Linked DNA regions of Homo sapiens: region 1 is linked to region 2. Evidence: fine-mapped expression QTL. Tissue or cell type: blood mononuclear cells. Region 2 holds a variant in brackets; the other region holds the start of a gene. All regions are shown on one strand. Distances are from middle to middle.

Evidence for each region. PIP is the estimated chance that this variant, and not a neighbour inherited with it, causes the effect.
Region 1: it holds the start of FAM110B, and the variant in region 2 is fine-mapped to the expression of FAM110B in blood mononuclear cells (TOPMed, PIP 0.98).

Annotation. Positions count from the first base shown.
Region 1 is chr8:57,990,433-57,998,544 of GRCh38, forward strand. FAM110B (family with sequence similarity 110 member B) reads left to right here and starts at 4,091. Exons shown (of 4, transcript NM_001377989.1): 1 at 4,091-4,374. RefSeq lists silencers at 4,418-4,467, 4,488-4,537 and an enhancer at 4,542-5,042.
Region 2 is chr8:58,382,733-58,390,844 of GRCh38, forward strand. No RefSeq gene overlaps it. Among named protein-coding and RNA genes, the nearest start is that of UBXN2B, 25 kb to the right of the region's middle. The variant T/C (reference allele first, on the strand shown) is at 3,855.

The DNA of each region.
Region 1 (8,112 bases), 390 kb before region 2:
AAAAAAAAAAAAAAAAAAGGAATTAATTAATTAATTAACTTAATGTAATGAATGTAAATTCCACAAAATTTTAATTCATTTAAATTTCAATAGCCTCATGTGACTACTGCTCTCTTATTGTATAGGTAATATGTGAGATTCATTGGCAAGCTTGGCTTATAGTAAAGATATGTAGGCTTTGGGATCACATGGGCCAGGCTTTAAGTCCTCTAATCACTAACTCTGTGATCTTGGATTTGTCTCTTTCCTGGGCATGAACTTCTTGTTCATAAAATGGTAATCAATATTATGTACATTTAGGGCCGTTGTGACCACTGAAAATGAAAATGAAACATATAAACTGCTAGCACAAAGTTTCAATAAATGGTAGTTATTAGTATTAAATGATGGAGGTCAGCATTCAAGAACATAATTCGATCGTTTTGATCTTCTGGTCGCCAGCCTGAACATGCACTACGCTGAGAAACAAGCAACATGAGGGAACCCCCAGGGGCTGTTGCCCAGGATGGAGTGGAGTGGCCTCTTAGTCCAGCAACTGACAATGCTTTTCTATTTAGTGACTCTCTTATCTCAGCCTTGCTGTGAGCTGCCTTTTTTCAGTGTGATTGCTTCTAGCAAATCCTCCAGCTCCTCCTAAGGTGCATTCCTCGCTGCTTTTTTCTATTTCCTCAGAAGAACTATGGTTGTTAAGGGGAAAAGACAAATTGAGCTTGTTCAATCAATAACTTTAATTTTACATACAATTCTAAGACAATGGAGTCTGATCTGAGGGCTGAGGGGTTCTCAAGTCTTTTTCTGTGGAATTAAGAGCACAGATTCACAGACTTTGTTTACCTTAGCCCTGCCAGATCGCTACAATCTCTTGGGCAGATCTTTTAAAAAAAAAACAACACAGGCCTATCCGTTCTCCCTCAACCTAGAGACCTGGCATTAGTTGGGAGTACTGCAGGTGATTGTGTTTCGTGGTCTGAAAACCGCTGATGTATGCCAGGATTTCAGGGGGAGCTCTGGACAGACAGGGTGGTCTGACTGACCCTGGGTTAATTGAGGGACTGCTGTACCACTCTTAGGCAAGAAAATGGGTACAAGCATCCCACTGATCCAATACAGGCATGCTGGGGGTACTCTGGATATTTGACTGACATTTTCCCTGGCATAGCCAATCATTAGAACAAGTGCCACTTGGAGCGGGGACTGGATTCCAGAACTCTTTATTTTTTTACTTTTCCTCTGAAGCTGCTTTGGTTGTTTTGTTTTCAGAGATGCTCTCCTTTTGTGAGGCTTGCATCTGTTTATAATATGTTATTATTCAGCTTACGGGCTTTTATACATTTAAAGTTTCCCTAGTTGTTGACACAACTTAGGTACGTACCCATCTGGAGAAAGACTAGTGAAAACTCTGAGCTCATGTCTTTTCAAGCTCACATTTTCCCGTAAGAAACCATTTTGGCAGTCAGAGGATTAGAGCTAATAACTGCATGTCCCTAGGCTCCCTGCTTGCTAGGAATAGTCCCACTGTCCAGAGTCACCTGTGAATAATGGTTAAATTACATTCTGATTCGTGTATGGATGCTTGTTTGGGTACTAGTCAAATATTGTTACATACTTTTAGAGACAGAAACCTCTGTGAAACAAAAGAATTCCAAGCCTAGGATAATGGCCCACTTCTGAAGAATAAACAACACAATAAAATTCTAGTACAAACAACTAATTTCAACATTCTCTGAAAATCTGTAGCAGTCCTTAACATTTTCAGTCCCCAAAACAAGAAAACTATGTCCTAAATCAGCAAACATTAGGGATTATGAGAGCAGTTTTATTGGCATAATTGATAAGACAATATTTACTGAAATATTCCAGCATAGATGTTTTACTGTGTTCTCTCTGTCTCTTTAACCACATCTTTTATTGGTTTTTGGTTTTGGTGATGACAATTTGGGGCTATTAAATCTACACTGGGCAATAGTAAAACCCTAAATGAGAACCTTAATAATAAGAGTTAGGGGTCCTACTAAGTGAACTCCTTGGCATATACTTTATTATCAAGAAGTAGTTTAGGCAATAGAAAAGCTAAAACTTGGTCGGCGCAGTGGCTCACGTCTGTAATCCCAGAACTTTGGGCGCCTGAGGCAGGTGGATCACCTGAGGTCACGAGTTCCAGGCTAGCCTGGCCAACATGGCAAAATCCCGTCTCTACTAAAAATACAAAAATTAGCTGGGCGTGGTGGCCCGTGCCTATAATCTTAGCTACTCGGGAGGCTGAGGCAGGAGAATTGCTGAACCCAGGAGGTGGAGGTTGCAGTGAGTGGAGATCATGCCACTGCACTCCAGCCTGGGTGACAGAGTGAGACTCTGTCATCAAAAAAAAAAAAAAAAAAAAAAAGAAAGAAAGCTAAAACTCATTGGTTACATTCCTGATTTTCAAAGCATCGATCATAGGGGAATCTTTTATGATTTTATAAGTGAGTCTTCTGGAAAGAAACTTAACTCAAAATGGCATAAGCAAGAAAGACAATTTATTGGTGCATTACTTCAGAAGTTCAGGATTTGACTGGTTTTAGAGGTGACTGTCTTCGGATGGCCATTGATGTCATCAGGGCACTTTTCTGTCTCCATTGCTCAGTTTGGCTTTTTTTCTGGTTTTGTTTTATTCTCCAGTAAGTTGACTCCAGCTGCTGCACGCATATATGATATGGTCCCAGGAGCTGCCCTGTCAGTCAGGGAAAGGACCCTCCTCCTTTGTTCTCAGACGATATTCTAATTGGCTGGCCTGGGTCATATCCCTCACAATGTCAGGAAGCTCTGTGGGCTAGTCACACCCAATGGGAGGGGGAAATTCCTAAAAGGAAGGGATTGGGGCAAAGAAGTGGGGAAAAAAAGTATACTTGAGAGGGAGAGAAGTTGGTTCCATTTGCTATGGGAATGATGAAAAATAGTTTATTTCTATTGTTATATGACTTTTGGAGTTAATGGAGACCACAACGTAATCTGTGATAACAAGGAATGTATTAGTATGCCAAAGGAAAGTTCCATTTAAATCCCAGTATCATGTCACTTTCTTAAAATGGTAATCTTTAAATAGAAAAAAAATATATTATTATAAAGTCTGAGTTTTATTTAGTTGGCAACTTCTTAACTATTATGAAACAATAGATTCATTGAATTGAAGCACAATTCAAATATAAACGATCTTTCTGAGAAAATGAGATGAGTGAAATCGTATTGTTAATGTACCAGAGATTAAAAAGAAATCCTTGCTCAATATTTTCTAGAAGAAACAATTATTTTGTGAGTCCATATCCCATTCAAATTCATTTTGATAAAGATGGATTTTATCTTTTAGACTTCCCAATAGCAAAATTAAATTACAATGTGTTTAGTCTTCCTAAAACAAATCCTCTCCTGAAACAACCAAGTTATTAAGCAAATCTAAGCAGAAAGTATTCTCAAATACTATATTAGGCGATTAATAATGACGCACCCCAAAGCATTTCATTTTAAAACATCAGCTGGCCCACATTTCAGAGGTAGTACATCATGCTTGATATTTTTCGTTATTTACTATTTTCTCCAAACATTTTTTTGAAGTCTTAAAAATGCCTTCAGAAATTAAGCTAGGACGCTCCATCTGAGTATATGAAAGTTAGTAAACAGAAAATGTCAAGCACCAAGACGTTTGGATGGCTGGACTACCAGGTGGGGTTATCTCATTCAGGGCACAGGCTCTACGTCTCCAGTGCTGAGCGATCTGCACTGGGGTGGCAGTCCGAGATCCAGCGGTATCACCGGGTGGGAGCAGGGTGGGGGTGCTTGCGTGCGGACATAGGTGGGAGTGGGGGATAGGGAGGAAATGGAGGCGCCGACCGAGTGGAATGGGGGGTGGGTCAGGGATGGGGTGGGATGGGCATCAGTAGCGGGGTGGAGATGTTGAGAGAGAGGCAGGGCTTGGAGTGGAGGTGCGAGAAGGGTGGGGACCCGGAAGGTGGGGTGGGGGCGGGATGGAGGCGGGGCGGGGTGTACGAGGGGCGTGTACACTGGCTCAGGGACACGCGCTCTCGGCCACAGCAACTGGCTCCAAGTTCCCTCCCTCACTCTCCGGCGAAGCCTGCCTGAGCCCTCCCACTCGGTGCAGACCGAACCATCGCGGCCGCCGCCAGCCGGGCCCTTCGCGGCCGCGCGTCCTGGGCCCGTTCCGCCAGCCCCGTCTGCTCTCTACCCGCGGCCCCGCGGCGGCGACCGTGAACACTCGGCGGCCCCTACAGCCCGCTCTCGGCCCTTCGTCCCTCGCGGGCCCCGACTCTCCCTCCTTGCAGTCCCCCGGAGCCTGGCTCCCGGCTCGGGCCGCACCGCCAGGGACTGGGGTGAGCGGCCCAGGTAAGACTGGGCCGTGGGGGCCGGGAGAGAGACTGCTGGGCGGGGGTTGGGATTCGGGTTCAGTGGTCGCGCCGCGCCCCGACTGCGGACAATGCGGGAGCTGCGCGCGGCCAGGCGGCGCGGAGCTAAGCCGGCTCTGCGCCTGCAGCTTCCCCGCCCGGCCCGGGTCTCCGTTGAGCCCGGCCTCACTGGCCCAGGCGGACCCCGTCCGGCTTTCTGGGCTGCCGGGGGAGGCGCAGCGCCGCTGCCTGCCCCGCGCCCCCTCTGCGCTCGGCTTGGCTGCACGTCCCGGGCTCGGCTAGGAGGCTGGGCACGGGGCCGGGGCTGGAGCCGGGGTTGGAGCCAGGGCGGGGGGAAGCTGGCCGCGCTGCGGAGCGGAGGTGGGCTCCGAAAGCGCGCCGCCGGTTGCTGCTGGAGGAGTGGGACTACGAAGGATGGGGACTCCGCTCGGCCACCGCTCCTGAATGGTCTCTAATCTCGGTGTTAAATACTTTATGAGAGTATCAATACCACCTAATCCTTTGCTGAGAATTACTGCTAGAAATGTAGATTCTGAGGTTCCGAAAGTTTGTTTTTGGTTACCCCCTCCAGCTCCTCCCGTGGCCTCAATTGTCTCTATTTTCTTTGAAAGCATACAGATTTGAAATAGAATTAAATTCTCCTTGGCTCACTCGTGTCTCCATCACCCAGCGGAGCTCATAACTTGGCAACAAAGCCCATACAGGCTGTGGGAAGCCGCGATGCCTGCTGCCCAGCCTGGTGCCCTCCTATTGTTTAGAGCTGGAGCTGTACAGTGTAAATGGCAGTGACAGGTCTCCCTTAAGCTGGCTCGTGGGGAAGGAAGGGAGATAACTTTGCAGTGTGCTTAAATTACTCTGGAAAGTGGAAAGAAAACACCTGGTGCTCAGCTTTTTAACCCTTTCAAGTTGTTATTCAGATTTATTGACACACACACACAGAAAAGTGCAGGCTTTCTTTCCTGCCTAAAAAATAGGCAACCTCTGTGTTCTTCCTCACAGCCAACTTATGTCCTCTGCAAAATCTGGCACACATCTGTGACAACATTGCACTTCTGGCGTAACTGGTCTATTTCTCAAAAGGGAATATGATAGTAGAATAAGCATTTTTGCAGTATGGATAGTAGGACTTCCATTTTCTTCGTTTCCTTTGTTGGTGAAGAAGGTATTTATTATTTTCCCCCCAGTTTACACGTAGTGATTTCTGGGAAGATACTTGTATTAATTTCTTGTACTCATTTTTGTGACATCACAACCCCTGGTCATTCAGGTAAGCTATTTATTAAGCATAGTTATTCTAGAATAAAGGTGAGTTAATGGTAAACTAGAATCCTTCACTGATAACATCCCATTGGTTTACCCTACGGTATTTAATCTGTAGTATTACTATAGATTGTACATGTAAAGTCACTAATTGAACAGAGAGGTGGTTGGTGCCTTGTTAGCCTGACATAAAGTGCTTAGAACAGTGCCTTGCATATAGTTCTAGGTGTCAGCTAATATTACTTTTAATTTTTCTTATCAAGCTATGTGTTATTTTCTGTTTGGAAAATGGTCGTTTTGATTTTTAAAATTCTGATCTGTTAGGTCATGATCTATTTTAAGTCTGTGGTTTTAATTTTAGATCAGGGCTGAGGTTGGGTTGTTATTATGCCTATGACTGACAGGCTTCTCTGCGTATCCTTATGCATGGTGAGGGTTGATTTAATTCATCTTATATATTGGATCTCTAAGGGCAAGACATCAGTCTTGAACCCAGTCATGCCCTGGTGCCTTTCATAAGGAGACCTGGTTGTCTTTAAGAGCCTAATTGTTTAAAGAGAGGCCTCCACATTAGGGAAGACCTGGGCTCTGAACCCCATTCCTTACCTCCCCTGCACTCCCTTGTTCTCTAGGTTTAGAATCCCACTTCCAATTCCCAATGGAAAGAACCGTTGGTACAGCAGAGTTAAGTAACTCTCACAGTGTTAAAAGATGATAAAAGATAAATATGTCTACTGTATATACAACAACCAGAGCATTTAATTCTTTTTCATGCTTTAAAATATTTTAGAGCAGGATTTATAGCCTAACTAGCTAAGATAAGAAAACTCACTTATTTAAAACTACTTATTTGCCATGTGTTAGTAACCAAAGATTGTGTTTCCTATTTAGATATTTTAAATGATTGTCAGGAGTTTACTCTTATTTCATGTTCTCCTTTCCCCTTTAACTTTGAAGTGACTTTTTAAAAAATCGTGATTCCTAAATAACTTAGCTAAGCGAAGGCATGGTATTAACTCTTAGGGCCCTGCAGAAGCAAAACTGCTGTAGGCACAGTGGCTTGGCAGTAGATGGTGCTGTGGACAAGGCTGGTGGAGGAGGCATATGTATGGTCTAGTAGAATCCCAGGGATTAATTTAGCAATCCCATTGTTTGCTGCCCCCCAAAACATACTCTTACCAACCAGACACTGTCCAACAATCTTTTTGGGAATACAGTTTGTTTTTAAATTTGTACTTTATATGTTCAACATTTGTAGACTATTGGCCATTTTTCTGTCTGAAAGCCATCGCATTTTAGGTGCTAGACAAACATTGCTTGTAAAAATATTATTATGAAACTGTTCACTTTATTTTATTTTCCCATTGTAGAGTCAGATTGATCAGCTGAGCCTAGAGATCTCCAACTAATCTGAACTTTTTTTCATACTTAACTTTTTAGGAGAGAGAAACAAATGATCAGAAACCTACTTGCATCTTGAATTTATTTAAGAAAACAACTTCCTAGGGCCAATTCTCATTTACTTTGATTTGCATCATTCTTCTGGCTCCTGGTATGATGCAGTGAGAATTGATATTCAGGATGAAGACTGAAGTGTTGCAAAGTCATGACTCATCCAAGAAAAATACATTCATTCTATTCAGTACAGACACCAAGGCTAGAAATCTAGTACACTCAGAAAAAGGATTTTCTGGTTCATAATAACAGTTATCTCTAAGGGCTGGCTCTGGGACCAGCAAAATCCTCGATGGTTGATGGTGGGTGTGGTGTCTCCTCTAAGAGAGAGTAGGTGCTGTTATCCCCTTTCTATAATACAAGTGAAGGGAAGTGACTTATCTGAGTCACATAGCTAATATGTAGCAAGGTGTGTGTGTCTCCAGACCCCATGAATCTTTCTGTCATGCCAGGAGGAATAACTTCTGCCTTGTACATTCAGTTGCTGGAAGTGTTTGTGTTTCATACCTTCTTTTCAGGTTTGATGTCAACAAATCTCTTCTCTATAACTCATTGACATACTTTGAATTTTGTGGTTAACATTTGATTATCAAAGAGTCTAAAATGAGAAAAGGTACGCCACTTTTAGTTTTCAGGGGAAACCTTTTAAGATTTCACAATACCTTGTTAAAGATCACTTGTTTTAGGAAGGTTGAGGAGAGAGATGGCACATTTAGCTTCTTTGAACTATGTAGACTCTGATAAAAATGTCTTAGATTTAGAAGTAATAAAGAATGTTGGGTCTGTTTTTGGCTTCGTTGCTCAGGTGTTCTGAGAGCAGCACAGCTCCCCCTATGCCAAGTGACTTTCTTTCCCTTAGGTTAAAGGAGGTTTATTCATTTTGATCACTTAAGTACATCAGAGGGGATTATGATGATTTTGGAAACATTGAATCAAATCTTCATTTCATATATTCATTTATTTTATTTTAGACTTTAGGCAGAGCCTAATATAATTTTTTAAT
Region 2 (8,112 bases):
AAAAGTACAAAGGTTAGCCAGGTGTGGTGGCACACACCTGTAGTCCCACCTACTCAGGAGGCTGAGGTGGGAGGATTGCTTGAGCCTGGGAGGCAGAGTTTGTAGTGAGCCATGATCACACCACTGCATTCTAGCCTGGGCAATAGAGTGCAACCCCATCTCAAAATAAATAAATAAATAAATAAAATAATAAAAAATAAACCTGCAGACAGACTCCACAAATAAAAACTGTTAGAACTAATAAACAAAGTTGCACAAGAATCAGTAGCATTTCTGTATAATAATGTATACTAACAACAAACTATCTGAAAAGAAATGAAGAGTCAATCCCATTTACAATAGATAGCAAAAAAAGAAAATGCTTAGGAATAAATTTAACCAAGGAAGTGAAAGACCTGCACACTGAAAACTAGAAGACATTGATGAAAGAAATCAAAGACCGTTGTTTTAATAAGCCTTTTAATACTACAGTCAGTTGTGTGATGATGCTTGCTTTGAAAACCAAATTTGTCCTGGCACAATTAATTAACTTATTCATTTGGGAAAATTACTCAAATTTCCCATTTTCTTATGCATGATTTTGTCTGCAAGAAACACTAGGAATATTTCATCCAACTGAACTAAATTGTAGGAATACACAAAACACATACCCCCTTCCAATTCCTACTAGCTAACTCCATTCACCATGCATGTGAGCCACACCCATTCACATCCCTTATTATGTACATCATATTACTCTAAAAGATGAGCAGCATTGAATATATACACCTGGTGTTCTTTGTCACACCAACATTAGTCATTTCAGGTTTTTTTTTTTTATTTGCTGTTAACTACTTAAAATATTTACTTCCTAGTCATTATGAGTCAAATCAATGTGTGCCACTCATGAAGTATTTTGAGTGTCAGGCCTGTAATCTCATTTTTGCCCTGTGATGTGTTTTGTTGTTGTTGTTGTTGTTGTTGTTTGTTTGTTTGAGACAGTTTTGCTCTTGTTGCCCAGGCTGGAGTGCAATGGCACGATCTCGGCTCACCACAACCTCCACCTCGTGGGTTCAAGCGATTCTCCTGCCTCAGCCTCCCGAGTAGCTGGGATTACAGGCATGTGCCACGATACCCAGCCAATTTTGTATTTTTTAGTAGAGACGGGGTTTCTCCATGTTGGTCAGGCTGGTCTCGATCTCCCGACCTCAGGTGATCCACCTGCCTCAGCCTCCCAAAGTGCTGGGATTACAGGTGTGAGCCACCACACCTAGCCTTGTGATGTGTGTTTGTTGCTAGTTTTTATTGTTGTTGCCAGTGTGTATTTTTTTTTTTTTTTTTTTTGAGACGGAGTCTCACTCTTTCACCCAGGCTGGAGTGCAGTGGCGCGATCTCGGCTCACTGCAGGCTCTGCCCGCCGGGGTTCACGCCATTCTCCTGCCTCAGCCTCCCACGTAGCTGGGACTACAGGCCCCCGCCACCTCGCCCAGCTAATTTTTTGTATTTTTAGTAGAGACAGGGTTTCACCGTGTTAGCCAGGATGGTCTCGATCTCCTGACCTCGTGATCCGCCCGCCTCGGCCTTCCAAAGTGCTGGGATTACAGGCGTGAGCCACCGCGCCCGGCCACTAGTGTGTATTTTTAAAAATTAATTGACTTCATTTTTTAGAGCAGTTTTAGCTTTACAGAAAAAATTGAATGGAAAACACAGAGAGTTCCCATATAATTTGCTTCCCTTTTATTAATTAACATCTTGCATTAGTGCTGTACATTTATTACACTTGATAAGCCGATATTGATACATTATTAACTAAAGTCAATAGTTACATTAGAATTAACTCACCGTATGTTTATTGCGGCACTATTCACAATAGCAAAGACTTGGAACCAACCCAAATGTCGAACAATGATAGACTGGATTAATAAAATGTGGCACGTATACACCATGGGATGTTACGCAGCCATAAAAAATGATGAGCTCATGTCCTTTGTAGGGACATGGATGAAGCTGGAAACCATCATTCTCAGCAAATTATCACAAGGACAAAAAACCAAACACTGCATGTTCTCACTCATAGGTGGGAATTGAACAGTGAGAACACATGGACACAGGAAGGGGAACATCACACACACTGTTGTCGGGTGGGGGGAGTGGGGAGGGATAGCATCAGGAGATATACCTAATGCTGAATGACGAGTTAATGGGTGCAGCACACCAACATGGCACATGTATACATATGTAACAAATCTGCACGTTGTGCGCATGTACCCTAAAACTTAAAGTATAATAATAATAAAAAAAAAAGAATTCACTCTGTGTTGCAATTCTATGGGTTTTGACAAGCATATAATGACATGTATCCATCATGATAGTATCATAAAGAATTGTTTCACTTCACTTAAATCTCCCTGTGCTCCCCCTATTAATCCTTTCCTTTCCTATCCCCCATCCCCAATCCTTGGCAACCACTGATCTTTTGTCTATCTCCACAGTTTTGTCTTTTCTAGAATGACATATAGTTGAAATCCTACAGTATGTAGCCTTTTCAGATTGGCTTCTCCCACTTAGCAATATGCACCTAAGATTTCTCCATGTCTTTTCATGGTTTGATACCTCATTTCTTTTTATTGCAGAATAATATTCCATTGTCTGGATATACCATATTTTATTTATCTAATCACCTTCTGAAGGACATCTTGGTTTCTTCCAATTTTTGCTAATTATGAATAAAGCTGCTATAAACACCCATGTGCAGGTTTTTGTGTGAACAGGTTTTCAACCCATTTGGGTAAACAACAAGGGGTGTGATTGCTGGATCATGTGGTAAGAGTATGTTTAGTTTTATAAGAAACCACCAAACTGTCTTCCAAAGTGACTGTATAAAGTTGTATTCCCACCAGCAATGAATGAGAGTTTCTGATGCTCTACATCCTTGCCAGCATTTGGTGTTGTCAGTGTTCTGTATTTTGGCCATTCTGATAGATGTGTAGTGGCACCTTTTTTTAATTGCAATTCCCTAATGAGGTAGGCTCAGCCTCTTTTCATACGCTTGTTTGCCATCTCTATATCTCCTCTGGTCAGGTGTCTGTTCAGGTCTTTTGCCCATTTTTAAATTAAGTTGTTCGTTTTCTTATTTGTTGAGTTTAAAGAGGTTTTTGTATATTTTGTATGCCAGTACTTTATCAGATATATGTTTTGCAAATATTTTCTCAAAGTCTGGCTTGTCTTTCCATTCCCTAAACAGTGTGTTTTGCAGAGCAGAAGTTTTTAATTTTAATAAGGTACAACCTATCATTGTTTTCATGGATCATACTTTTTATTGCTTTATTTTGCACAGCTCAGTGATTTTCAGGAATTTATATAGTGTGTAATGGCCACTGACCACATTTATCTTTCTCAACCATTCATTTATTTGGCCAGATAATTTCATTTTGGATAAGTTTCCCAAATAATTGGTACAAAAGTATTGAATAGCATAATTTATTATGGTGAAAAAGTGGAATTCTAATGGAAAACAGTTGAGGCTGGGTAATTCAAGAGAATATTAACAACATGAAATACTAATATAGGTGTTCAAAACTGTTAGCATGTCAACATTCTTTACATACAAAAATAAGTTGATGCAAAGGTTGAAAGAAGAAAGCAGACTATAAAATATGCTTCATACATTAATTTCAACTAAGAAAAAATGTATTTTGACAAATAGAAATAAAAAGTTGGTAACATGCATTAGAGCAAGTAACAAATCCCATGATCTTAGTACACATCTGTTTTTCACTCATGCAAAGTTAAATACAAATATTCGAGGTGGGCAGCAGCTAAAGGGTCCAGACGCCTTCCATCTGCGGCTCTGCCATCCCCTAGGTTCCTAGAGT[T/C]CTCGGCCAATTCCTCTGCATGGATCTCAGAGATGGAAGAAGAGTATGGGCGATCACAGAAGATTTCTAAAGGCCAAACTCAGAGGGCTGAACCCACTTGCACCCAGACGGTCACATCAAGGCAGGCTAGGAAAAGTAGTCTAGCTCTGTGCCCAGGAGACAGAACAATTTTTCACCTACATAGACCGCTCTGCTCTTGGCAAAAGTAGACCAGTTTTCATAGACTCCTTTCTCCTTTCAATTGTGCTTAAATCCATCATAGTATATCTCATTATTATCTTAATTCAGTTCCTGAGTCTGGATTATGAGAGTTTAGATACCACTTATGCAAGTCTATTAGGTTTCTGTATTCAGATAGCTAGAGTTTTGATAGCTAGGATTTATTCATTCCTTATTTAAAAGAAAGAAAATTGAAATTTGCAGACTTTCTGAGTTCATCCCCTATCCTTCATTCAGACAATACCTCCTAAATCAACTCAGATTATTGCTTATCCTATTTAAAATTTTTATAGCAAAATTATGTCTTGTCAAGGAAACAATGTATAACCATTTTTTCTCTAAGTGATTCACATTTCTAACTTAATTCTTTTATTTTTTAACATAAAGCAGAATTGCATAAAATTTTTTCTAAGTAGAAAAATATAACTCTAATTAGGGCTTCTAACCTGCATATTAAGAACCAGGGTTTGATTATGCATTGGTGGCATTCACCAGGGTCAGTTCCGGTAAAAGTGTTTTAGCATTAATTGTCTTACATGATATAAGCATCTGTAAAATTATATTTGGGGAGTAAAATATCTTTATCAGAGTAATTCCTTCTTAATTTTTTTAAATGTTAATTATCATCTTTAGTATTGTTCTCTAGTTACTAATTTTAACAAAAGTTCTATGAAGTGTTGGAAATTTTATAGAGTAAGCCAATTATCATTACCACAAAAAAATTATTTTGTGTACTTCTTTGCTGGTTTTTCCAGGAGATTTTTATTATTAACTTGTCACATTGCATAAAATATTCCATTGGGGCTCTTAGTGAATATTTACATTTAATCTATGTTTAACTTAAACAGTATTCTCATTTTTACTATAGTTAGTCTATAATGGTAAGTATCTTCCTCTGTATTTCTTACTAAAGTTTTATCATATTCTGTTAATATACATTTTATGTTTCAAGACAAATCACTATCCATTTATGCAGTCTTTTGTTATTTTATCTATTTATTTTCTAACTACATGTCATTAATGTACATAATTAATTTTTTAAAGAATTGTTTGACCAACGTGGCACATGTATACCTATGTAACAAACCTGCACATTGTGCACATGTACCCTAGAACTTAAAGTATAATAAAAATAAAAAATAAATAAATAAAATTAAATTCAAATGAAATGAACCTAAAAAAAAAGAATTGTTTGAAATCTTGATTGGTGCAAGATGGTATCTCATTGTGGTTTTGATTTACATTTCTCTGATGATTAGAGATATTGAGCAGTTTTTTCATGTTTGGCCACTTGTTTTTCTTCTTTTAAGAAGTGTCTGTTTGTGCCCTTTCCCCACTTTTTAATGGAGTTATTTGATTTTTCTTGTTGAGTTTCTTGTAGATTCTGGATATCAGTCCTCTGTCGGATGCACAGTTTGCAAATATTTTCTCTCATTCTGTAGGTTATCTGTTTACTCCTTTGATTATTTCTTCTGCTGTGCAGAAACTCTTTAGTTTAATTAAGTCCCATTTGTCTATTTTTGGTTTTGTTGCATTTGCTTTTGAGGTCTTAGTCATAAATTCTTGGAACTTCTGGAGAACTTCTAAGTTTTTGATTGATGCCTTTGATTTTTTTTATAATTATACAATTAGTAAAAGGTGATCTTCTAGCAAGATAGCTGGAGACCTTATTTGAGGCTCTCCTTTATCTTCTTATAAAGTATATTTCAAGTTTAAGTAAGATAAACAAAGTTCAATCTCTGTTCACTTATTGTCTTCTAATTAAGTCAATTAATTAAAACCAAACTATTTATAAAATTTACTAAATTAAGAAAACTATAACAGATTGGAAATCATGTCACCTAAGATTATTAATTAAATTTGGATTTCTTTTCCATAGACACTAAAAGAACAAATTAATAATTGACTGATATCTTAGGTGAGTACATTAAATGTAACAGAAATTTTATAAACGCATTCTCTATATAACATTAAAATTTTACTACAATGAAAAAGAATATTTCTAAAATGAATCTTGAAGAAAGATTCCAAGTTACTAGATCAGTAACTATTTGAGGTGTTATAACATCACCACCTACTGGAGGATTAGAATAGGAAGATTTTCATTTTGGAAATCATCAATAGCAATATCGATTGAACTTAGAAATTCTTTCATTTGTACAATTTTTTAAGGTATTGAGGCCCTAACCCCTTACCTTACACACCTGAGATAATAGACACAGAAGGGCTAAATAGGGTTCAATGATTTGCTCAAAATCATACCACTAATTGTATATAAGACTATCATAGATGACTAATTATATGTAAGACTCTAAACCAGGTTCCCTGGTTCTCAGTCACATGATCTTTGTGCCTTAACTTGCCCTTACAACGTGCCATATTGACTGTCAAAATCCATTTTAATAATGGTTAAAACATTTTTGAAGTAAAAGCAAAGTTGGTTTTCCCATAAATATTATTATATTGATAGCTTTCCCATTATTCTTTTACTGCCTCATTTTATCTTAGAATAATTAAGAAATAAATTTCGATTAAGTTCTTATGTTTTCTCCTATAGATGATGATTGATTGAATTATTTAGTGCAAGCGAGTTTATGTTTCTCATAATATCTCTTTATTTTCTGACCCATAATTAAAGAAAGAAAGAAGGTAGCATTTTTCAACTTTCTGATAGACAACTTAAGACTGTTGGCAATAGTGTGGGAAAAGAGGCTCCCTCATAAACTGTAAGTGAGAGAGTAAATTAGTGCTAAAGTTTGCTAGTAATTTGATAGTCTCTAACAAATTTTAAATCACGCAGCCTTTGGCATGGCAATTCCACTGTTGGAATCCAGTCTACAGATACTTTTGCACAAATATTTATTGCAGCATTATTGGTAATAGCAGAGACAAATCTGGAAACAACCTGCATATTATTAATATAAGACTGACAAATTATAAGATATCAATATAGAATACTATATAAAATACTATGCTGCCGTTTTTTAAAATAACATAGTACTGTGCATACTAAAAAAATAATTAAAGTTATTTAAAGGAAGGAGCCAGCCTTTGCTTTATATGTATACTGTCATTTCACATGTGTAAAAATATGGAACTTTATAAATATTTATAATATAATAAATACAAAATATATTAATATATGACTTTATGGATTTCATTTTATAAATAAATATAATAAATGTCTGCACATACAGATGCTCTTTGGCTTAAGATGAGGTTACATCCTGATAAACCCATTGTTAAGTTGAAAATATCATTAAGTAAAAATGCATTTATGACACCGTAGTTTAGCCTGTCCTACCCTAAATGTGTTCAGCTTATATTTGCCAAAAGTTGGGCAAAATCAGCTGGCAACACTGCACACGGCAGAGCGCCAGTCCTTCACTCTTATGATAGCATGGCTGACTGGGAGCTGTGGCTTGCTACTGCTGCTCAGCATGTACCATATATCACTAGCCCAGGAAAACATCAAAGTTTAAAATCAAAGTACAGTTTCTACTGAATGCCTATGGCTTTTGCACCATTGTAAATTCCAAAACTTGTTAAGCCAAACCATGGTAAGTTAGGGACTGTCTATGTGTGTATGTATATACACAAACAAATATGCACATTTGTTTATGCACAGAAAAGTCCCTAACATAATGCATTACACCTTGTTCAGGTTATGACTCACATAGCAAAATAATGGTCCCAAACTCTGGAGGAAAACTAGAGGGGATGTAAAAGTATCTATATGAAGCTTGGTATTTTAAAAAATCATAATGTTTTCTTTATATTACAAAATTATGATTAAAACCACATAGTATTTGGGAAGATACTAAATACTGATTTAAACTTCTGAAAAGTTGTTTTTAAATATTGATGTATTTCTAAGTTTGTTATCTCCAACATAATTTTTTAGTGGGCGATTTTATTCTGTAAATGGCTACATGCAATTTCTGGTCAAAACTCTTCCAAAATGGTTTAATTGAAGCTAGGCACAAAAAGATAAATATCAAACGTTCTCACACATATGTCAGAGTTGAAAAAGTTGATC